Linked DNA regions of Homo sapiens. The protein of the gene in region 1 purifies or fractionates together with the protein of each later gene. This does not show direct contact. Each region holds a gene or a part of one and is shown in the gene's direction. Other genes may lie near its edges.

Region 1 (3,500 bases):
TGCCTGGCTGATTTGGATTTTATCAGAAGGAAAGAGGAGGAAGAGAGGGGCGAAGTTAAGTGTAAGAGGCAGTGCAGAGAAACAGCTTTGTGGTTTAGGGGGTGTGAGATGGGGACCACAGTGAAATGTTTCCAGTCACTTCATTGATTGCTTTGCATTCATTCAACTAACATTTAAAAGCACCTGCAAGTGTTAGTCACAATGTTAAAATACTGGAGGTAACCAGTGGGAAGCCACACACTCAGCCCTAAAAAACTACGTATTCACACTTTTTCATTTTGCTTTGACTTGTGAGAACATAAAAAGATCAGGCAAACCTGACTGCCTGATATATAAACTTGTACAATTGAAATGTGCTTCTTAAAGGAAGAAATGCTTTCATTTGTTCTGGTCTAATGAAGGCAGGAGCATTCTTGCTTAATATCGGCGTGGGAATAGGAATGTTACCAAAACATCATTTGTGAAGTTGCTAATGGTGCTTTTTTGCTACAGCTCAAACTTTAGCGGACATCAGAATCATCCAGAAGGTTTGTTAAAACACAGACTGTTGGGCCCCACCTCTGATGGTTCAGACTCTATAGATATGGGCAAGTGCCTGAAGATTTGCATTTCTAACAAATTTACAGGTAGTGCTGATGGTGCTGGTCCGGGGACCACACTTTGAGAATTGCTGGTCTAGAGTCTAGAATCTGGATCATAGACTTGATAGCAGTTACATATATCTATTTGAATCAGGTTTTAGCGATTATCCATGTGGCAAAATCATTGCTAGTGGGGTTTGAATCATGGCTTGCCATCTAGACAGATCACAGTGAACCATACTGATCTGGTTTGCTCAGAGTCTATCGAAGTGACTCATTAAAATGTCTGAAATTCAGGTTTCTTACTAATTATATTGGTTTCCTCATTTCATGGTTCAAACACGTGCATCACACTTTATATTTTGCATAACGCATTTACAAATTTTGCTATTTAGTCTGCTTAACAACTTGGTTTTTGTAGACAGAACAAATCTTTTCCTCCTGTTACAGCAAAGGAAACGGAGGCTAAGAGTAGGTAAGGGATCCCTTGAGGTCACACAGCTGCTTCCAGGGCCTCAGATTTTAAAACCAGCATCCTCCAGTTCTGTATCATATGGCGTGGCCTCAGCTGCAGTATTTTCTCTGCCCTCTTTCCAGTAGGGACTACATCTCTTCAGAGCTAGTCACGTACATGTATCTATTTAGATGGAAATACAAAACTTATCTTCTTTAGGCAATCTTTTGAGAAATGTCATTCTGCCTAGCAGAGTCTAAATTTTGGATTTCCAAACAGTTGCAGGTAAGACCCACATGTCCTTTTCATTGCAAAGTGAGTTGATAACCAAAGATGAGCCTTCCTGTGCTGGGTTCCTTCATGATATAGGGCTCACTTTGGGTCCTGTTTGTAGCTAACCAGCTTACATTGATTCTTCCAAGGGTTATCAAATTGATCAGTATCTTTTGGTTAGTCTGTGGACCTCTTCTGCCCCAAGTAAATCACCAACTGAATGTGACTCATCAAAGACTGCAGAATATGCATGTATTTTTCCCCCTTTGGTATATCTCTGCTTGCTTCAGAGATTTTTGCACACGTGAGCTTGCCTTAATGAATGTTTGGCAAATACAAGAAGGTGTTTTGACTCTGGCTGTTGTTTCTCCCTTCTGTAGATATGCAAAAGTTATAAGGGAGAGGGTCGGCAGCAGATTTGTAACCAGCAGCCACCGTGTTCAAGACTCCACATCTGTGACCACTTCACCCGAGGGAACTGTCGTTTTCCCAACTGCCTCCGGTCCCATAACCTGATGGACAGAAAGGTGCTGGCCATCATGAGGGAGCACGGGCTGAACCCCGACGTGGTCCAGAACATCCAGGACATCTGCAACAGCAAGCACATGCAGAAGAATCCCCCAGGGCCCAGAGGTAAAGGCCTTTTCTTTTTCAATTGTGTGAACTCTTTTTTTTTTTTTTTTTTTGAGACAGAGTCTCTCTCTGTCACCCAAGCTGGAGTACAGTGGCGTGATCTCAGCTCACTGCAACCTCTGCCTCCCAGGTTCAAGTGATTCTCCTGCCTCAGCCTCCCGAGTAGCTGGGATTACAGGTGTGCACCACCACACCCAGCTAATTTTTGTATAAATTAGAGACGGGGTTTCGCCATGTTGGCCAGGCTGGCCTTGAACTCCTTACCTAAGGTAATCTCCCTGCCTCAGCCTTTCAAAGTGCTGGGATTACAAGCATGAGCCACTGCACCCGGCCAATTGTGTGAACTTTCAAATCAGCAGAAATCACAAGGAAAGAAAAACTGCCATAATCACTCTACCTTGCCGTGTAAAACTCTTCATTTTCCCTTCCAAACTTCATGCATATGTATACACCATTTTTACATAATTATAATGGTAGTATACATGCAGTGTTTGCAATTCAATTTTTATGCTTAGCACTATTGCCCCCCCCCCCAGGTTTAAAAAAGTGTATATCATTTTTCTAAAAACTAATTAACAAAGCTTTTTTTTAAGGAAAAGAAACAAACATAAAATTGTTTAGATTTATCAGCTGTTAACATTTTGTCCCAATTGCTTTAGCACTTTCTTTCTCTCTATGTATACATGCAGCTACTCACACACACGTAGAACATTTTGGTGTTTAAAGCATTTGATATATGTAAATATCATGACATTTCACACCTGAATATATCAGCATGTATCTCCTCAGAACAAGGCCATTCTCTTACATAATCACAAGACAATTAATACAGAAAATTTATTATTGATGCAAAACTATGTATAATTTAATTTATGGTCCTCAGTGCCATTTCTTTAAAAAAAAACCAATATTTTAAAATTTCTAAAAAAAGCCACAATAACTCCCATTCCCTTCTTTCCCCAGCCCCTGGCAACTAACATTCTGCTTTCTGTTTGTATGAATTTGACAACCCTAGGTACTTCATATAAGTGGAATCGTACAATATTTATCCTTTTCTGACTGGCTTATTTCACTTAGCATGATGTCCTCAGGGTTCATCCATGTTATAGCATATGTCAGAATGAATATTTCATTGTATGTATATAATTATAAATTTTTTATCCATTCATCTGTCGATGGATATTTGGGCCATTTCCAGTTTGGCTATTGTGAATAATGCTGCTGTAAACATGGTGTACAGATACCACTTTGAGACCCTGTTTTCAGTTCCTCGGGGGTATATAATCAGAAGTAGAATTGCTGGATCATATGGTAATTCTATGTTTAATTTTTGGAGGAACGATCATACCATTTTTTGTAGCAGCTGTGCCATTTTTCATTTCTGCCAGCAGTGCACATGGGTTCAAATTTCTCACATCCTCTATCATTTTGTGTTTTCTGATTTTTTTTTTTAATAATAGCCATCCTAAGGAGTATGAAGTGCTATTACTTTTTTTTTTCTTTCCTGTTTTGAGACAGAGTCTCACTCTGTCACCCAGGCTGGAGTTCAGTGGTGCGAC
Region 2 (3,500 bases), on another chromosome or scaffold:
ATTTGCATCAGAACCTCTGGAGGTAGGATCCAGGCATCAGTGGGTTCCTAGCTGATGCTACCAGACAGCTGGATTGAGAACCAATGGCCTTTGAAAAGGAAATTGCTGCTACATAGCCTGGGTCTGTTCATGCTTTTCCTGTTGAGACCCCCATCCTAGGGAGGCTGGGCTAGTGTCCCCCTCTGCGGGGCAGGCTTTGCTATGCTGTGCCAGTAAGGCTGGAGCCAACCCTATCTGAGCTCAAGGTCCTGCTTGGAAAGTGTGACCACTTGACTCTTCAGAGTCCTAGTGCGGCTGCTTCCTCATCTGAAAAGTGGGACAATGATGTTGCCTAGCTGGTGGAATTTCTGTAGGAAAGTCCAGAGCCAGCCTGCTGCTTAGAGCCAGCAGGCGCCTGAGGAGTGGTCCCTGCAGCTCGCCCCTTGGCCTTATCTTGGGCAGCTGGATTTCCCCTTTGCTGGGCACTGCCTGTCCTCTGGGGTGGCCTCACAGGACCCTTTGATTGTTAGCTTTCATGTTTGCCTGGCACCTCAACGGGCCGGGCCCTGGGCTAAGTGCTCTCATGCTTTATCTCATCAAATCCCCTGTGGTGGGTGCTACTACTGTGTCCTGTCTGCAGAAGAGTAACTTTGGTAACTCAGAGAAGGCTGGGACCACCAAGTGGCAGCACTCAGGTCCCACCTCGTCCTGTCCACCCTGAGCCCCAGTGTGGCCCCCATGGCTGGTGGTTTAGTTTATCCTGTGGAGTTTTGTTCACTGCCATATCCCCAGCATCATTCCTGGCACATAGAATATGCTGGGTCATGCTTGCTAAGAGTGACTGAAGGCAGGAATCCTTACGGTCCCCATGAGATAAGCAGAGCAGGCACCGTCCCCGTTTAACAGGTGGGAACACTGAGGTAAGGAGCTTAGCAGCTCCTGGGAGTCCCACAGTGGCAGAGGCCAGTCTGCGGCCCAGGCTCCTGCCCACCCGCTCTGCACAAGGACCCTCTCAGATCATACCTAGTTCTTAGAAGGACTCGCTGTGTTTTAAAAAGGCACAACTGGCTGGACGTAGTGGCTCATGCCTATAATCCCAGCACGTTAGGAGGCCAAGGCGGGTGGATCACTTGAGCTCATGTCCAACATGGTGAAATCTCATTTCTACTAAAAATACAAAAATTAGTTGGGCCTGGTGGTGTACGCCTGTAATCCCAGCTACTTGGGAGGCTGAGGCACAAGAATCACTCAAACCCGGAAAGCAGAGGTTGCAGTGAGCCGAGATCGCTCCACTGCACTCACCTGGGTGACAGTGTGATTCTGTCTATTTAAAAAAAAAAAAAGGCACAGCCCTAAAACAGCCTCCTGTATCAATAAAGGGACATTGGCTTGGTCTTAGGAGCCAGGCCAGTCTCCTGAAGAGTACCCTTTATTCTGTGCGTACCTGATGTGTGCCTGCTGTACACAGAGCCCTGAGATGCAGACCTATCTGGGTAGGAGAGCTCTGCCCGTGGGGGCTGCAAGATATGAAGCCAGGGAGGACAGGGAGAGACCCATGCAGAGGCACCAGCAGCTGAGGGTGGGGGTCTGGTTCAGCCAGCCTTCCAGAGCAGGCAGCCTCCCAAGCCAGGCCAGCCCCCGGGTGCCCAGCCCCCCTGCGGTACCCACATCATGGCACCCTCATACTCCCCAAGGGTGGGAGCTACAGGTGGCTGGTGTCCCCCAGCAGCCTAGGACTGCACACCACTGAGTCTGAAGATTGTGGAGCCTCATTCTGGCCTCCACACTCTGCCCCAACCTCCTTCCTCCCCTCGCCCACCTGTGCCCCCGCCCCCTGCCCTTCACCCCGGCCTCTTGGAATCAGTTCTGTCTCCGACTTAGCGGAGTTTGTGGAAGCCTTGCCTATCCTGTGTCTCGGGAAGTAGCAACTCAGGAGCCTCCAGGAACAGGAAGAAAAGCCCCCATAAGTGAGGCTGCGTGTCTCCAGGGGCAGCTAGTGCACAGCCTCATCAGTTACCTGTAGGCAGGGAGGGGACAGGTCTGCCACACTCACAGGTTAGCCATTCCAGGTTCAAGAGAAACGAGAGGTGCAGATTCTTATGTAGCATCTCCCTGTTTTTGAACATTAGTCACTGATTTCTGTATTCATGGCAAATCATGTCAGCAAATCCAGACACTCTTCTGTGGGCCCACAGTGGGAGGCCCTGCTCCATCCCATTGGTCACTTTTTTTTTTTTTTTTTTTTTTGAGACAGAGTCGAGAGCTGCTGTTGCTATCATCGTGTTATAGAGGAGGGGAGCAGCCCACCCTCGTGCTCTCAGTAACAGATTCCATCAACAGCAGTAAGAATGACCAACCTATATTGACAGCTTGCCGTGTGCTAGGCACTATTGTGAGGGCCTTACATACATATATTCATTCTTTTAATACCCTCACACACCCTAGGCGTGTAGATTTCATCACCATTCAGTAACTGCAGAAACTGAGAGGAGCCCAGAGAGGTGAAGCAACTTACCCAAGGTTGCCCAGCCAGGAGCAGCAGGGTTTGATCCTGGCAGCTCACCCACCCAGCACCCTGCATCTAGCACCCTCCACCCTGTACCTCAGGCCTCTCCACTCAGAATCCAGCCCTGGGCTTCCTGGCCCAGTGCTTTTCCCCTCCCCGGACTGTTCACGCCTGCCTCATCCCAGGGTTCCTTTCAGAACTCCCTTCTCCCCTTATCAGCCACGCTCTTCTCCCCCGGCTTGCCTTTCCTCAACGTCTGCTTCCAGAACAAAACCCCAAGAAGCGCTTTCTCTTGTCCTCCCGACGCACCCCCCCGCCCCCCCGCCCTTTCTCCCTGCCTGCGCCTTTCTCCCTGCCTGCCTGCGCCTCCCATGCAGGGCCGACAGCGCCAGCCAGGGAAGGGAGAGACACAGGCTGGCATTCTGTCAAGGAATTAATTGAAAAATAAAATCATTAGGTGGGAACTCCAGAAATGCAAAAATGGTGGTTGGAGGTTGGTGGGGAGGGGGGCAGGACTGGGGGGTTGTCGGGGGATGGCTGAGCTTTTTGTCAAGTTAATTTCTCGGGTATTGATGTTTGGTGACATTCACTTGTTGTTTATCTTCGGGTGCAGCTGTAATACTGAAAGAAAATGCACAGCTTGTTTCGTTTATTTATTTTACACCTTTCTCCGGTTCTGCATTATGTTTGTTTGGTGAAAACCCACTGAGGCTTTTGATGTCGGGGAAGTGGGATTTCAGCAGCTGTTCGCTGCAAACAGGGTGCTCCTCAAGGAAGCAGGGCCAGCGGGAGGTGCGGGGTGTCATTCGGTGGGAACTCGGGGCCTGACATGTCCTCCAGGGGGCAGTTGGGGGCCCAGCCTGAACCCTGGCAGATATGCCAGGCCCAGGAGCACGGAGGCTGGCTTATGATACATGAGTACATAGTTGGCAGGTAAAGGAATGAGATGTTTTGGTTCATCAAGGCCACAAAGCCAGGCTCCGCGTAAGAGCCCCCGCCCCATGAGTGCTCACTG
Region 3 (3,500 bases), on another chromosome or scaffold:
TTTTTAGTAGAGACGGGGTTTCTCCTTGTTGGTCAGGCTGGTCTTGAACTCCTGACCTCAGGTGATCCGCCCGCCTCGGCCTCCCAAAGTGCTAGGATTACAGGCGTGAGCCACTGCACCCATCCTTTTTTGTTTTGTTTTGTTTTGTTTTGTTTTTTGAGACAGAGTCTTGCTGTGTTGCCCAGGCAGGCTGGAGTGCAGTGGCACAATCTCAGTTCATTGCAACCTCCACCTCCCAGGTTCAAGCAATTCTCCTGCCTCACCCTCATGAGTAGCTGAGATTACAGGTGCGTGCCACCATACCCGGCTAATTTTTTGTATTTTTAGTAGAAATGGGGTTTCACCATGTTGGTCAGTCTGGTCTCGAACTCTTGACCTCAGGTGATCCATCCACCTCAGCCTCCAAAAGTGCTGGGATTACAGGTGTGAGCCACCATGACTGGCCTGACTAAACTTTTGAAACATTCCATTGTAGGTTCTTCCTAAAACATTATGAGACCAGATTCTGTTATTTCTATTATACAGAAGAGGAAGCTTCTTTTAAGGAGATAATCTGATTTGTTTAACTTACATGTTCTGTTTTAAGTTACTGAAGTAAACCCACTATTTAACTAAAGACTGTAATACTCTTAGATTGCCATTTATTAGCCAGTTGAGGTAGTGTGTGCCTGTAGTCCTTGCTACTCAGGAGGCTGAGGCAACAGGATCTCCTGAGCCTAGGATTTCAAGTTTGCAGTGAACTGTGATTGTACCATTGCACTCCAGCCTCAGCAACAGAGCAAGACCGTATCGCTAAAAAAGAAAAAGATTGTCATTCAGAGGTGACACTGCCAGAATTAAGTCTTTGGTTTACTGTATGCTATAAGTAGATACCAAAACACTGACCCTTTCCTCCATCTGTCACAGTGAGGAGAGCTATGTCTTTTATTATAGATCAAGAATGAAGCTTATTATGGTATGGCTAGTATAGGTAAAGGTCTCATTCTTTTCTTTTTTTTTTTTTTTTTTGAGATGGAGTCTCCCTCTGTTGCCCAGGCTGGAGTGCAGTGGCACTATCTCAGCTCACTGCAACCTCCGCCTCCCAGGTTCAAGCGATTCTCCTGCCTCAGCCCCCACGAGTAGCTGGGACTACAGGCACACACCACCACACCCAGCTAATTTTTTGTATTTTTTTTAGTAGAGATAGGGTTTCATCACCATGTTAGCCAGGCTGGTCTCGAACTCCTGACCTCATGATCCACCCACCTTGGCCTCCCCAAGTGCTGGGATTGTAGGCGTGAGCCACTGCGCCCAGCCAATTTACTAGGTTTTTAACCTTATCCAGAAACTAGATGACCGTGTTACCCTCCTTTGCCTCAATTCTCGGTGGTTAATTTTTTGCCCAAATCCCAAATACTGTCTTTAATAGTATTAGAATATTTCGCCAAGGCCTTAGGCCCTGGTACTCTTGTGAACCATTTGGGAACTGAGACAGTGAAACTTGAAAAGAGGCATGTGAGCACTGCTTTTCCTGTACCCTGTTTGTGACTTAGGAGATGGGGGTGGCCTGCCTTTGCACATTCTTCCTGCTTCCACCCTCCTGAATTCAGGATTCTGTGAATCAGTGAGCTCCAGGTTTTGGCCTTCCCTTCAACCTCTGCAGCTCTGTCAATTCCTCTACTGGGTTTTTCCTAGTTTTGCCCTTTACTTGAGATAATTCACTGTATTTATGAGTTTTGATTTTTTAAAATGAAATGCTCTTGTCATTTAGGGAGGATTTACTGATAATATATATGAGGATCTAATGCTAAGTTTAGAAAGAAAAGATATGAGTGTCAATTTCTAACTTCTTTATTAAAGATTTTACAGAAAACGGAAAGTATTTCAAAAACTAATCGTCAGACGTCTACAAAAGGCCAGGTAAAATTTTTTTTATCATTTTACATGCAAGATATTAGAGAAGGATAAGTAGGAAAACATATTCAAGACTACTGTAGCTGATCAATATTCAAATTGATGTGTTTTAAAATTTATTTTAAGGTTTTACGTAAGAAGAAGAAAAAAGTTTCAGGTACTCTTGACACTCCTGAGAAGACTGTGGATAGCCAGGTAAAATGGTTTTCAATACTCCAGACACCAGATATTATAGAAATAATTTGAAGGAGGAGAAGCAGTTTCTGCTACTCTCATTTTAAGATTTCAAATTAAATATTGTGACATTTGGTAGATCTTTATTGTTGATTTAGCAATTTTCTGCCTAAAACCTTATAATGGAACATGCTATATTTGTTAATTGTGAATTTCTGTACCAAGTTTGATAAGCATCTAAGTTCTTTATTCTTTGCAATAGTATCACCAAAAGATGGTAACAGAGCTAAAATAATGGGGCACAACTTGTAAAAATAGAGGAGAGATGATATTTTTGGGTAAAGTCATAATCATGTTTTACATTTATGTATTATAATCTTTACTTGTTGAATCCAGGGCCCCACACCAGTTTGTACACCAACATTTTTGGAGAGGCGAAAATCTCAAGTGGCTGAACTGAATGATGATGATAAAGATGATGAAATAGTTTTCAAACAGCCCATATCCTGTGTAAAAGAAGAAATACAAGAGACTCAAACACCTACACATTCACGGAAAAAAAGACGAAGAAGCAGCAATCAGTGATTTTCAATGTATTATATTTCTTTTGAAAAATATAATATTTTTATGAGAGTGGACTTTGTATTTCACTAGGTACAATGGAATACAACCTTTGACAAGATTTTCAGAGGAAAAATACACTGTTTGGTCAAGTTAAGGAAAGCAGTGTGTAATTTTGGATTGCCTGCCCTTGGCTGAAATACAGGGGTGCATACCATCTTGCAGTGGCTTGGCTGACATTGCCTCTTTGTCCTGGCCTCTAGTTTTCTTTTGATATTTCATAGCTCTCCTTAGTTTACTCTGCCTGGATAGAAAGTTGACCACTAACTGCAGGTTTAAGTACTAAACTGCAGCCTTTTCTGTCGCCAGCAATTAAAGACCACCAATCTTGTTTGTCCATCTACATGGTTTGTCGGGGACATTTAACTCATGGAGGTGCTTTAGATTTCAACATCAGATGGTTGAAGCTGGAAGTTTAATTATATGTAGAGTGAGAAGGCAGTTCCAGTTTTAGCACAGATTTGTTTATGTGTTCAGATTTTAATAGAGATTCAAAAATGACTCATTTTTACCAATAATGTTAAATTAGTTTTGGTTGTGCTAGCATGAATTAATAACCACCATTTTATACCAGTATCATCAGTGAAGAATTGTATTTCAAGATTCAAACAATAACCAGCAATTAAACTTTTTTCTACAATGTATTTGTTTGCGAGTAGGACTTGGGAGTCATTGGGAAAAAAAAATAATAAATTTTCCCCTTCATTAACGAATTCAGACTCATTAAAAACATTGCCATCAGATGTAGTAGCTTGTGCCTGTAATCCCAGCACTTTGGGAGGCTGAGGCAGGAGGATCACTTAAGGCTAGGA
Region 4 (3,500 bases), on another chromosome or scaffold:
ATATAAGACAGAAAATGTGTTAAGGATTTATGTTACCAGTAAGGCTTTCCAGTCACGAGTAAGCCATTAAATTTTGGAAGAGTCAAAAGTTACAGGCAGATTTCAACTGTGCAGCAGGTTGGCACCTCAAACTTCTATCCACCCTCATAGATACTGAGTTATTCAAGGATACACTGTATTACCTTCCTGTCCCCCTAGTCCTGGGGCTGCAGTTGCTGAGTTTGCTACCCTCCAGTCTTAGCCCTTGGAAACATACAGTTTGTCCGAAGGCAGAATCATAGACAATATGTGGGAAACAGAAGTGAGTCTGTTGGGTGTGAAGGGTGTTTAATAGAGAAGAAATACAAAGATAAGTGGACATTATTATCTTACAGTCATCTACAAGGCTTGGAAATTGGTATCTGGTTGCTTTAGGTTATGGAGCATATAGATGGTAAATCCTGGAGTTTTTATAACCACAGGATTGTAAATTAGTGTATGCAGTTACGTGAATTAAGGTGTTAGACTAGTGTGGTCTGGTGATCTGCAACAAAGTAGTAGTATAAGAGCATTTAGTTACGGATAAATTTATGTATAATAAGTCTTATTTAAGGCAATACTGTGGATTGGCAAAAAAGTTTTCTAAAATTTAGCTTATTTTTTATGTAGATATACAGCTAGGATAAAGATAGTTATGTTTTAAAAGGAGTGGGAGGGGGGTCAAACATGGTGAACATGCTGGAGTAGAGTCCGGGAGTTTGGATGGATTGGGCCATGAAAAGCAAATGCTAGAATTCCTAGTTCCTGTGGCATGGAGAATTATCTGGCAAGCTGTAATTGTCTTTTGACTTACTAAAAAGTTTTCCAGGGAAGTTAAATTTTTTTGCCTTTGTTTTCCCATTTTGAGTTGCATTTTGTCTATTTTTAAGACCCTTACCAATCTGGATAGGCCATAGTATAGGAGTGGTAGCAATTAGATTTTAATTTAGAAATCTGGCTAGTATTAGTGAATAGTAAATGCCCAATAAATACTAAAAAGATTTGAGTACCTACCTTAGTAATGTAAGTTATTAAGTGTTTAGTGTAGTTTTTCTCATTTTGCAGGTAAAAAAGCCAATGAGGCAGCTTTCCTAGGTTACACAGCTGTTAATAGTTGAGTCAAGACTAAAAATCTAGCAGGGCGTGGTGGTGCATACCTGTAATCCCAGCTACTCATGGCTGAAGTGCAAGAACTTGAACCCCGAAGGCAGAGGTTGCAGTGAGCCAAGATCGCTACTGCACTCCAGCCTAGGCAACAAAGTGAGACTCCATCTCAAAAAAAAATTGAGTACTGTTATTTCTTTTTCTTTTCTTTTTTTTTTTTTAAGATCTGCAAAGGGGTTTAATAATGCAAATATCACATATATTTCCATTTTTAACACCATATTTAAGTTTTCCATTTTCTTAACAATAGAAAGTGATAAAAATGTTTTTCCCAATGTAATAATACAAATGGAAAATATTATAGACAGTCATACACTAACCCAATGAATAAGATTCACCAGAAGCAAAATCTATTTTGGGGGTCCTATATTGTTACATATATACAGGGCACCAGAACCACATTTAGACTAATACTTTTTATTTCTAGTTAAAACAATGCAGGGCACTCCTGTGACCTGCAAATCTAATTGTACATATGTATGTGTCAGACTGTGCAGGTGGCCAAGAAGAATAGAAAGAAAGACTTTATCCAGCTTTGGAGTTCAGGGCCTGATTGCCCCAGCTTTAGCCCATAGGAACTTGACAGCTTGTTCATACCTCTCATCTTTAGTCATAGTTTCTCTTTCTCCAACCCCTTTTCTCCCTAACTACCCTGTGCCATTTAGACTGGAAATTCTAACAGGTAGCTTTTTCTTTCTGAATTATCTTTACTACTGTATAATTTTTATTTTCAGAATATTCCTTATTTCTACATCTTGAAGACATTTCTTTCTAGTAGATGGGGGAGCTAGAGCTTACATTCACTGCCGGAAAAGGGTCAGTTCCAGTGTTAATTTCCCAGCAAACACCTGAGAGAAAAACTGAACAGAAAAGAATAGTGATGGCTGGCAGAGAGTGACACCTGCACCCAGAAAGCTGCACTGCAGCTGTCTAATATTTGAGGGTCTCTTTTGTTATAACTGCCAGTTTAAACTAGAGATTCTGGCTGGTTGCAAATTCAAAGCAGATCAATACATTTAAATCACTGGTTCAACAAATCACTCTTTTTAATGGTATAATGTTTTTATTGCAATTGAGGACGTTTTCAGTAAATACCTTGAGCTTGAGGCCCTGGCTAAGTATTCCTTTTGCAATACTGTTTTTACTGTCATGACACTGGTCAGTGAACTGTGTTAGTTTCACATATCTATCTATGTACCCACAAAACACCTCCCTGTCTTTGCAGGAGTGACATTACCCTGTGTGTAATGGCAGCCTTGTGCTTTCTCTGTGCAGAGACAGGGTCTTGCTCTGTTGCGCAGGATGGAGTACAGTGGCATGATTATAGCTCACTGCACCCTCATTTCCGGGACTTGAATGGAGGCCCGGCTAATTTTTTATTTTTTATAGATATAGGGTCTCGCCACGTAACTACTTTTAATTATTTTTATTGCCGGGTATGATGATATTGATATGTGAATACCTGTTGTAACTACATTAGAAGGCATAACAAACAGTCAGAGCCACCACAAAATGGATTGATAAAGAAATGATGTATTACCCAGATACCATGAGTAGCATTATCAGTAATGAAAAATTCTCCACAGAAGCTGCATTTTTAGTGAATTTAATGCGTATTAAAACAGTACAGAAATACATACATGACTCAGATAACAATAAACAAATTTACTTTCTATACCAAATCTTTACATAGTCTTCTAGCAACTAACACCCACCACTTCCATTAATGCAGATAGTGCTCCCTATCTTTGGAAAAAAATTTTATTTTTTTATTTTTTTTGAGATGGAATCTCACTCTGTTGCCCAGGCTGGAGTGCAGCAGCTCACTGTAACCTCCGCCTCCTAGCTTCAAGCAATTCTCCTGCCTCACCCCCCAGAGTAGCTGGGACTATAGGCACACACAGCCACGCCTGGCTAATTTTTTGTAATTTTAGTAGAGACGAGGTTTCACGATGTTGGCCAGGCTGATCTTGAACTCTTGGCCTCCCAAAGTGCTGGGATTGCAGGCGTGAGCCACTGCACCCGGACTGGAAAAACTTTAAATACCCTGCCAGGGGAAGTATTGCCCCTGTTGAAAATCACTATTCTAGACTTTGCCTGTATTTGCCTTTCTTACTCTACCAGTTTTTTATTGTATTTCCCCTTAGAGCCTTAGAGTTTGAAATTCAGTCATATTGGAGAGCAGAACTAATAAATGATGGCTGTAATCTGTTTTTGTGGTGCCTATGGAGTTATGGACAGATGGACATTAGGTACAGCCATCATTTCCCTAGGCAATCCTAATCATCTAGCTTGAAAGGTCAGTTTTCAGTCACTTG
Region 5 (2,803 bases), on another chromosome or scaffold:
CTGGGCTACAAATAGGCAGTTTGTATAATGAAACAGACAGCACACTGGGAGCGGGAAGGTGACTTTCAATCTCTGGCTTCACTCTGGCACTTTTGGTAAAGTGCTCAGCCTGTGGGCCCCATTGTCCTCAGGGGTTGGAACTGATGATTTATAAGTTCCGCAGTTTAAAGAACAGGGAATATCTGTTCCCTGCTCTAGCGAATCCTAAGTAGTGGTCATTCCAGATTCAAATGACATGAACTGACAGCATTTTGTGTTGTAGATTCGACAGAAGCTGCAGACTAAACAGGCTGCCATGGAGAGGTCTGAAAAAGCTAAGCAACTGCGAGCACTTAGGAAATACGGGAAGAAGGTGAGAAGAAAAGTGTGCAGGGAACAGGAAGAGGCGGAGTGTGTGTTAGATGAGATTGCCGTGGTCTGACTTGGTCCCCTGAACTGAACGGAACTGTGTGTTGATCATGTATTTACCGTCTCTCAGTGTATGTGCTGGTATTCATGAGCACAATCTTGCCTGGACATGAGTGGTTCCCCAGGAGTAGTATGGTGACTGCAGGTGAGCCAATCACCTCTCTGGGCGTTAGTTTTCACATCTGTACACTGGGTCCAGATGAGTGGTTTCCAAACCTGACCTTATAGCAAAATCACCAGGGGAAATTTTTCAAAACAGAATTCTAGACTTCAGAATCCCCAGGAATCTGTGCCTGTTTTCCCCTCTTCCCCAAAAGCTTTCCAGGTGATTCTGAAATGCATCCTGGTTTGGGATTCACTGATCTATGTGATAATCACGTACCTGAAGAAATTATCATAATGATTGTCATCCAATCTGAAAGATTGCCTGCGTGTTTGAACTATGAATGTCTGAGTTCTAATGTAACACCAGATCAGGCATACCCTAAAACTTTTCTTGGTTTTCCTTTTTTATTTCATGGTCATCTAAGAAAGAAGATGACAGATTTTAAAGTTAGGATTGTGGGAAGAAATGAATGTGAGGAAGATTGGTGTGGGTGTTAAGACTTCGTCAACATTTGGACATAAGCACTTGTGATCTGGGCTGCAGAACTCTTGTCCACGTTTGGAGTCATTTCACTGATACATTCTCAGCAAAGTAGGAATAGGCTGGGATCCTGTCCTCTACAAAAGGCCTGCTGCGGATTTATTATTTCTTTGATCTGGAGGTGGATGGCTGAGATTCTCTCAAAGACACCAGTAATTAATTTAACATAGCCAAAGTTACCAAAAGCAAAGACAAACTCACTTGGGCCTATTAGTTCACTGTTCCTAATTTAAGGAAACACTGGGGAAGAGTTTGTTAACTGGGGGTGAATTTGCTCCCCAAGAGTTTTCTGTGACTGCCTGGAGATATTTTTAGTTGTCAAATTTGGGAGGGAGGGTACTACTGGCATCTAGTAGGTAGAGGGCAGGGGTGCCGCTAAATATCCTACAGTGTAGGACAGGCCCCTACCCCCCAGCAAAGAATTATTCTCTCCACACTGTAGCAGTATCAAGATTGAGAAACCCTCTGTTAGAGTATTATAAAGTGTCTCCTTTTATCCTTCAAACTTTTTTCTTTTCTTTACCTGGGGACATTGTTTTTTTCTCTTCCTTTTGGTACTTTCATGCCTAGTAACAGTGAGTTAGATAATTAATCTGTCCAAATGTGATGCGAAAAATCGATGTAGTCTTAAACATGATTTACTTCAGTTTTGTAGGCAGGATTGTATAATAGGGTGAGTGCTGGCTTTGGAGTCAAACAGCCTGGGTCATCTTGGCTGTGCATTTTTTCACTGTGCGACTTGGGCAAGTTAACTTCCCTGTGCTTCAGTTTAGGGGATAACACAAATTTCAACTTCACTGGATTGTTATGAGACAGATATATCTTCATCTATGAAGAATATACCTAGATCTGAGAATATACTTAGAGTCCCTAACACAGTTTTTGGCACGTAGTAAATGTCAGAGGGTAGTGGTATTAATCATGGTGTTGCTATTAAGACAATGTAGACACTGGAGTAATGGTATGGAATGGCTGTAACGGTCCTTGTGTTCATATCACAGGTGCAAACGGAGGTTCTTCAGAAGAGGCAGCAGGAGAAAGCCCATATGATGAATGCTATTAAGAAATATCAGAAAGGTTGGTACATCTCTAATAGGGGAACGAGGGTAGCAGGTACTTTAGAGTTGATTTGAACACTTAGTGCTTTGGAGCCTTCTTGGTTGATGTGGACCTGTCGGATCAAAGTTTTGGGAATGGTGTTGGAGAGCAGGATGTGACTCTTAAAATCAGTGTAGCAAATAACAGCCTCATATGGTGGTTTAAACTTTTATTCTTAAAATACAATGGTGCTGATCAAAACTACTTCTTCACTTACAGGCTTCTCTGATAAACTGGATTTCCTTGAGGGAGATCAGAAACCTCTGGCACAGCGCAAGAAGGCAGGAGCCAAAGGCCAGCAGATGAGGAAGGGGTGAGAAGGGTTTTGGCATGGTTTCTTTGGTTCTGTGAGGTGCGATGGGGCCACAGGTCACGAGTATGGCAGACATAGCACCTCCACCGGCGCAGCCATAGAGTCCAGAGAGTGCAGCTGCTGCCTGGGGCCAGGACCCCTATGACTGTGTGATGGGCCCTTTTAGCCATGTCAGTCTTTGAAGAGTAAAAGAAGGCACTTTTTAAACTTCTTTTTTTTTTGGACAGTCTCATTCTGTCACTCAGGCTACAGTGCACTGGTACAGTCTTGGCTCACTGCAACCTCTGCCACCTGGGCTCAAGTAATTCTGTGCCTCAGCCTCCTGAGTAGCTGGAACT
Region 6 (3,500 bases), on another chromosome or scaffold:
CTCAGTGATAAAACCAACTATGACATTGTTGTTCGGGCAAAGCAGATGTGGGAGATTTTAAGAAGGTAATTCTACCTAAAGATGCCTTTGTTAGTCCCTTTGCAACAGTGGAGAAGTCAGTGTACCTTGTAAATAGTGAGATGTCCTAAAATAAATGACATAGCACTTGGGTTATTGAGGGGGTCCTCATGACACCCCATTAGAGACATCAGTACTTGGAAGTCTGCCCGTCACAGAAGTGTGTAGAATCATTATGATGGCATCGGATATGCTTATGAAAATGTATGAGGTTGAAATAAATTTGACATTCTTCCTGAGAGATTTCTGAGAAAATGAAGGACAATTTCTTATCAGCTAGATTTTGAGATACTTCAGTATTTGTTATCTTAGATTTGTTTTATTATTTTTTTTACTTCTGAAGTTCTGGCTGTTAAGATTTGGATTGATACCTAAAATTATACCTTTTGAGATGAGTTTCTGCCTTTGAGAAAATTACTTTTGTCTGGCTGCTCTGGAATAGTAATTTTAATGGCAGAGGTTTGCTGCCTTAGAAAAGAAAATCATGCTGAACTTGGAGAACATATACTGGTACAGTTTTTAATTTTGTGTGTTTAAAATAACTTCTTTATTTCAACTGTGTTTCCTTCCTCTCCTCATTTGTAGAAAAGACTGTGACAAAGAAAAAAGAGTAAAGTTAATGAGTGATTTGCAGAAGTTGATTCAAGGGAAAATTAAAACTGTAAGTAGCATATACTCATTGTTGCAATTTTTAACAGTTGAAGTTGCCTCACTCTCAGGAGTAGCTGACCATTCATGACAGATGATCTTATCATTGTTTCCGGTGTATTTGGCCAAAAGTTTTAAATATCTTCCATAACACTGAACTACATAAAAATTTAAAAGTGAGGGACCTTACTGCTAGGGAGTTTTGAAAAGATTATCAGTCTTTTCAGTCATTTTTTAATAATTCTTAAAATAAGCCAGTGTTTCCTTAAAGTTATCTTGAGAAGTTTATTAGTTCAGTAGTATTTTATAAATGTGTTGTTCTAAACTCCATATAATTTAGTATGTTCTCAATTGCCAACTTCTTTATATTTGTGATGTGAACATATTACTTCATTCTTTTCCTCCATGCTTTTGTAAACATCATGCGAAGATCTTTAACTAAAATATAATCATTTCAGAATTCTAAAGTAGTTTTCATTGTTGCTGCTTAATCCTGTTTTGTAATAAATTTCCTGTGACTCTTGTGTATTTGGATTAATACATAATGGCTTGGAAGACAACAGATTCTCATAGTTTTACGGCACCTGGAGGGGCAGCCTTTGTCAAGTCAGATGCATAGGTCTAACCAGATGCTATATTACAGTTTGAAGGAAAGTAGCAAGTCATCAGCTGCCGCTTTCTTATAAATTCAGCAGGATCTTTTTACGATAGGACTGCCCCCTCAGCTCCGACAATTTATAAATATTTCACTCAGGATTCTTTCTCAACTACCCTGAGGTCACAGCTGTATGACCATGGTGTTAGAAGTGAGTTTGGTATTCAAATCCTGGCTGGGCTGCTTAAAATATGTGTGCCTTTAAACAATAACAATAACTTCTTTATTGATTATTTACTATAGGCTAGGAATTGTGTTAACCAGCACATGCATTGTGTCGTTTACTGTATGTCATCATCCGTGTTGTATATTTGATGTATCTGGGACTCAGGGAAGTAAGATTCTTCCTCGGGGTAATAGAGATAGCGAGTTCCTTCTCATAACCTTACTTCCCTCATCTGTAAAGTGGGAATAGTAACAGCTCATTCTTATTGTTGCTTTGAGTTATAAATAAGAACACTATGTTTAAGGCATTTATGTTGATTATATAATAGGTGCTCAATATATGCACAAAAACAGCCTTATTTTTTTAAGAGATACTTAAGAGATGTCTTACAAATCTTGAAATTTATGACTTTGATGGAAGTATACACTCACCTGATTTGTTGGAATTCAGAAACTTTAGAGTGAGCAACAAATAAGCACTTTTGAAGTAGACTGGTACTGTGGCGTAGTGAAAATAATTTTGCATGATGGATGATTCGTGGAGGGCGCTCTAGAAAATTGGTCAGTGGGTCCTTCCAACAGTCATGAGGAGGAATGGGTTAGAGAATCAGATTCAAAACACAACAACTCTTCTAGAAATATAACTGGATATATGTGCAGGAATTATAATGAAAATGTGACAAATGGATGATTAACTTATTATATAATTGACAGTGTTTATGGACATAGTTGTATTTATTTCTTTAGGAAGACTTTTAGATTGATCTTACAGGTATACTTCTGGTTGCCAAAGCCAAACATTCTTAGATCACTTATATAAAAATCATACAGTAACAGACCTTTTAAACAGAAATATTTCCCTTTTAGGGACGGTAACTTATCAAAGAAATGAGAAGTATAGTCTGTATAATCATCAGATGGTTTGGTTTGCTTTGGTTTTAATTGCAATGAGAGGAGTCTTGCAAAATGGTTAAATTTATCCTTGCCTCAATGTCATTATTGTACCTATCAAATATGGTAGGCCTCAAAACAACAGAATGATGTTTTGTATAATTAAAACAAGTAGTTCTCAGTAATCTAGGTTTGATTTTATTCATGAAGACTACCTTTTTTTCTAACAAGAAATTCCAGAAGAGGTCACAATAAATTAGTGAGAAACATAAGTCTCAAAAGAGAATTAGTCTAACTCAAACTTTTTCCTGCAGATTGCATTTGCACACGATTCAACTCGTGTGATCCAGTGTTACATTCAGTATGGTAATGAAGAACAGAGAAAACAGGCTTTTGAAGAATTGCGAGGTATTTATTACATACTAAAGATTATGTTATCATTTGCAATAAGTCACTTGTTTTCTCTTAAAATACCCAAGACTGTCCTAGAAAACAATTTTTGTTTAGGTTTGTCTTCTCCAGATCCTTTTTTGTTTTTATTTTTTCCTTGCCTGGGACAAATTTCCTCCCTTTGTTTCCAGAGAACTGAAATGAGATCTGAAGTCACTGTAATGTATTTTTGTTTTTCAGATGATTTGGTTGAGTTAAGTAAAGCCAAATATTCGAGAAATATTGTTAAGAAATTTCTCATGTATGGGTAAGTTGTTTTATGTATAAAATACATTTTTTCTTTGTCTTTTGAAGACATGGTTTCCAACTGTGCTCAGATGCGAGATAGGAAGTCTGTGGTCTTTATAAGTAATAGTAATGGCTCTCAGCAGATGCTTGTGTTGTTTTTAGAGAGTATCATCTTAAATACAATTATCGAAATTAATGTAAAATTATGGTACTGCCTTCATTCCTAAAAAGATACATGAGAAATGTCCTGCAAATCTCCTTGAAATTTATGACTTTGATGGAGGTATACCCTCACCTTCTGATTTGTTGGCATTCAAAAGTTTTAAAGACAGAGTGAGCAACAGATAAGCACTTTTGAAGTAGACTGGTATTGTAGCATAGTAAA
Region 7 (3,500 bases), on another chromosome or scaffold:
CCCTGGGTGACAGAGTGAGACTCCGTCTCAAAAAAAAAAAAAAAAAAAAAAAAATTTTTTTTTAAAGTCATTCTAGCAGGTAGTCAGTAGTATCTTGTTGTGGTTTTAATTTATATATCTCCATGAAGACTAGCAATACTGAGCTTCTTTTCGTGTTTTTATTTTACTATTTTCTTTGATGAAATATAGGTTTATATCTTGCCAGTTTTTTTGAGTGTCTTTTTATTATTGAGTTTTGGAGGTTCTATATATATTCTGAATTCAAGTTTTTTCTCAGATAAGTATTTTGCAGATATTTTCTCTTAAGTCTGTGGCTTGTCGTTTGATTTTAAGTGACTTTCAAAAAGCAGAAGTATTGAATTTTGGTGAGGTGTAGTTTGTTAAATTTTTTATAGTTAATAATTTTTGTGTATGCTGAGATACATTTGGCTAACCTAAAGTCATTTTCCTTAGAAATTTTAGTTTTAGCTCTTACATTTAGGTTTATAATTCATTTCGAGTTAGTTTTCATATATACTGTGACATAAGGGATGTTTTTGTCTTTTTTTTTTTTTTTTTTTTGGATTTGGATGTCTAATTGTGCCTGCACTGTTTGTTGAAGAGACAGTCCTTTATTTTTTGAGACAGAGTTTTGCTCTTGTCGCCCAGGCTGGGATTACAGGCTTGAGCCACCATGCCTGGCTGAGACAGTCCTTTATTAAATAACCTTTGCACCTCCCCTCTTCACATTTTGAGAACTTCCATGCTTTCTGATACAACAAAATGTTTTAGCCTCACTTTGAACTTCCCCTGCTCTAGCTTTAGCCCCAGTGGAAACATAAATTTCTAATAGAAATGGTCTTGGCCATTCCTCCAAGAAGATCCGGTTCCTTCTAATTGGGAGTGGTGTGTAGAGACAGGACAGGGTGCTAGCATGCTTGTTCCTGCTGGAGAGCCATGGCTCTCGGTTAGGAGATAGAGCTAGGAAATATGTATATTTTGAAATAACAAGTTTATTTTATTTGATTTTAGAGAAAAGAACTCACTTGGTACCCGGGCTGTAGTGCAGTGGCATGATCTCACCTCACTGCAACCTCGACCTCCTGAGCTCAAGTGATCCTGCTGTCTCAGCCTCCCAAGTAGCTGGGGCTACAGGCACACGCCACCACACACTGGGCTAATTTTTGTATTTTTTTTTTTTCCTCTGAGACAGAGTTTCGCTCTTGTTGCCCAGGCTGGAGTGCAATGGCGTGATCTCAGCTTACCGCAACCTCTGCCTCCTGGGTTCAAGCGATTCTCCTGCCTCAGCCTCCCGAGTAGCTGGGATTATGGGCATGCGCTACCACGCCCAGGTAATTTTGTATTTTTAGTAGAGATGGGGTTTCTCCATGTTGGTCAGGCTGGTCTCAAACTCCTGGCCTCAGGTGATCCGCCTGCCTCGGCCTCCCAAAGTGCTGGGATTACAGGCGTGAGCCACCGAGCCCAGCCAATTTTTGTATTTTTTTTGTAGAGACGGGGTTTTGCCATGTTGCCCAGGCTGGTCTCAAACTCCTGGACTGAAGCCATCCACCCGCCTTGGCCTTCTCAAAGTGCTGGGATTACAAGAGTGAGCCAATGTGCCTGGCCCCTTTTTTAGTTTTTTTTGTTTTTTAGACAAAGTCTTGCTCTGTCATCCGGGCTGGAATGCAATGGCGCGATCTCAGCTCACTGCAACCTCCGCCTCTGGGGTTCAAGCATTTCTCCTGTGTTAGCCTCTTAAGTAACTGGGATTACAGTCATGTGTCACCACACTCAGCTAATTTTTGTATTTTTAGTAGAGACAGGGTTTCACCCTGTTGGCCAAGCTGGTCTCAAACTCCTGACCTCAGGTGATCCACCCGCCTCGGCCTACCACAGTGTTGGTATTACAGGCGTGAGCCACTGCACCTGGCCCCCTTTTTTACTTTTTAAATGTCTTTTGATGAGCAGTTTATTTTTTATTTTATTCATTTATTTATTTTTGAGATGGTGTTTCGCTCTTGTTGTCCAGGCTGGAGTGCAGTGGTGCCATCTCAGCTCACTGCAACCTCCGTCTCCTGGGTTCAAGCAATTCTCCTGTCTCAGCCTCCTAAGTAGCTGGGATTACAGGTGCCCGCCACCACGCCCAGCTAATTTTTTATATTTTTAGTAGAGACGGGGTTTCACTATGTTGGCCAGGCTGATCTCGAACTCCTGACCTCGTGATCTGCCCACCTCGGCCTCCCAAAGTGCTGGGATTACAGGCGTGAGCCACCGCGCCCGGCCAGTGGTTTTTAATTTTGAGGAATTTCTTTTTTCTTTATGGTGGATATCTTTTGTGTTCAACTCTTTGCCAGCCTTACAGTCTTGAGGCTTTCTCCTGTTATAAAGTCTTTGTAATTTTAGTTTAGATCACATTTAAGTGATCCTAGGTCTAATTTTTGTTGTGGTATGAGTTAGAGATCATGGTTTGATTTTTTTTTCTTCCCCCCACCCCGCTCCATGCAGATACCTAGTTAGTTGCTCTGGTACTATTTTTTTAAGAGATTTTTAATTTGTTTTGGTGTGTTTGCCAAAAATCGAGTGACCTTATATGTGCAGGTCTTTTTCGTGCTGTTCTGTTGATCTATTTATCCTTACACAAAACCATATCCTAGTTGTTGTGACTTTATAGGAAGTTTTAAAATCTGGTAGTGTAAGTCTTCTATTTTTCTTTTTGAGTGTCTTGGCTAATATCGGTTAGATTTTTAAGTTTTTTTGTTTTTTTTTTGTTTTTTTTTTTTTGCTTTTTGAGACGAGGTTTTGCTCTGTTGCCCAGGCTGGGGTGCAGTTGTGTGATCATAGCTCCCTGTAGCCTTGATCTCCTGGGCTTAAGTGATCCTCCTGTTTTAGCCTCCCACATAGCTAGGACTACATACAGGGGCACACTACCACACCTGGCTAATTTTGTTTTTATTTTTGTAGAGTCAAGGTCTTGCTGTATTGGCCAGGCTGGTCTTGAACTTCTGAGCTCAAGTGATCCTCCCACCCTGGCCTCCCAGAGCGTTGGGATTACAGGCATGAGCCACCCTGCCCAGCCTGATTTTCTATCTGTGTTATTGTAATCACTTTCTTGATAATGTCCATGATACACAAAAGTTTTAAAGTTTGATTAAGTGTGACTTTTTTTTTTCCCTCTTGTTGATTGTGCTTTTAGTTTCATATCTTAAAAACCAATTGCCAAACCCAAAGTCATGAAGACTCGCCTGTTTTTGCTTCTGAGAGTTGTGCATGTTAGCGCCTCTGTGTAGGTCTTTGGTCCATTTGGAGATTGTAATCACTTTAATATGCAGCTAACTTTCTGTTCATGTTTAATTTTAGATTCTTTCCCCATCTTTGTTGACTTAGTTTTATTTCTTTAATATGTAAAACAGTAAATGCTTCCAGAAGTCAAAACTATCATTCCCGTCTCATCCCGTCTGTCTACCCTAATCCCTCACACCTGTTGTAGGTAACTAATTTCATTGCTTGCTTTTTGAGACGGA

Evidence for each region.
Region 2: the proteins of ZC3HAV1 (region 1) and RBM19 purify together in Homo sapiens (affinity purification with mass spectrometry; 2 studies listed by BioGRID and IntAct, with this or other methods). This does not show direct contact.
Region 3: the proteins of ZC3HAV1 (region 1) and NIFK purify together in Homo sapiens (affinity purification with mass spectrometry; 3 studies listed by BioGRID and IntAct, with this or other methods). This does not show direct contact.
Region 4: the proteins of ZC3HAV1 (region 1) and YBX1 purify together in Homo sapiens (co-immunoprecipitation; 3 studies listed by BioGRID and IntAct, with this or other methods). This does not show direct contact.
Region 5: the proteins of ZC3HAV1 (region 1) and EBNA1BP2 purify together in Homo sapiens (affinity purification with mass spectrometry; 2 studies listed by BioGRID and IntAct, with this or other methods). This does not show direct contact.
Region 6: the proteins of ZC3HAV1 (region 1) and PUM3 purify together in Homo sapiens (affinity purification with mass spectrometry; 2 studies listed by BioGRID and IntAct, with this or other methods). This does not show direct contact.
Region 7: the proteins of ZC3HAV1 (region 1) and STAU1 purify together in Homo sapiens (affinity purification with mass spectrometry; 3 studies listed by BioGRID and IntAct, with this or other methods). This does not show direct contact.

Annotation. Positions count from the first base shown.
Region 1 is NC_000007.14:139,082,221-139,085,720, reverse strand, and holds part of ZC3HAV1 (zinc finger CCCH-type antiviral protein 1), read left to right. Parts: intron 1-1,688; coding exon 1,689-1,941; intron 1,942-3,500.
Region 2 is NC_000012.12:113,826,826-113,830,325, reverse strand, and holds part of RBM19 (probable RNA-binding protein 19), read left to right. Parts: intron 1-3,500. UniProt on the Homo sapiens protein: Plays a role in embryo pre-implantation development.
Region 3 is NC_000002.12:121,726,876-121,730,375, reverse strand, and holds the end of NIFK (MKI67 FHA domain-interacting nucleolar phosphoprotein), read left to right. Parts: intron 1-1,815; exon of another isoform or gene 1,816-1,839; coding exon 1,840-1,899; exon of another isoform or gene 1,900-2,019; coding exon 2,020-2,088; exon of another isoform or gene 2,089-2,463; coding exon 2,464-2,652; 3' UTR 2,653-3,431; downstream 3,432-3,500.
Region 4 is NC_000001.11:42,688,918-42,692,417, forward strand, and holds part of YBX1 (Y-box-binding protein 1), read left to right. Parts: intron 1-3,500. UniProt on the Homo sapiens protein: DNA- and RNA-binding protein involved in various processes, such as translational repression, RNA stabilization, mRNA splicing, DNA repair and transcription regulation.
Region 5 is NC_000001.11:43,166,488-43,169,290, reverse strand, and holds part of EBNA1BP2 (probable rRNA-processing protein EBP2), read left to right. Parts: intron 1-262; coding exon 263-352; intron 353-2,055; coding exon 2,056-2,131; intron 2,132-2,371; coding exon 2,372-2,465; intron 2,466-2,803. UniProt on the Homo sapiens protein: Required for the processing of the 27S pre-rRNA.
Region 6 is NC_000009.12:2,830,596-2,834,095, reverse strand, and holds part of PUM3 (pumilio homolog 3), read left to right. Parts: coding exon 1-65; intron 66-663; coding exon 664-739; intron 740-2,751; coding exon 2,752-2,845; intron 2,846-3,067; coding exon 3,068-3,134; intron 3,135-3,500. UniProt on the Homo sapiens protein: Inhibits the poly(ADP-ribosyl)ation activity of PARP1 and the degradation of PARP1 by CASP3 following genotoxic stress. Binds to double-stranded RNA or DNA without sequence specificity. Involved in development of the eye and of primordial germ cells.
Region 7 is NC_000020.11:49,125,835-49,129,334, reverse strand, and holds part of STAU1 (double-stranded RNA-binding protein Staufen homolog 1), read left to right. Parts: intron 1-3,500. UniProt on the Homo sapiens protein: Binds double-stranded RNA (regardless of the sequence) and tubulin.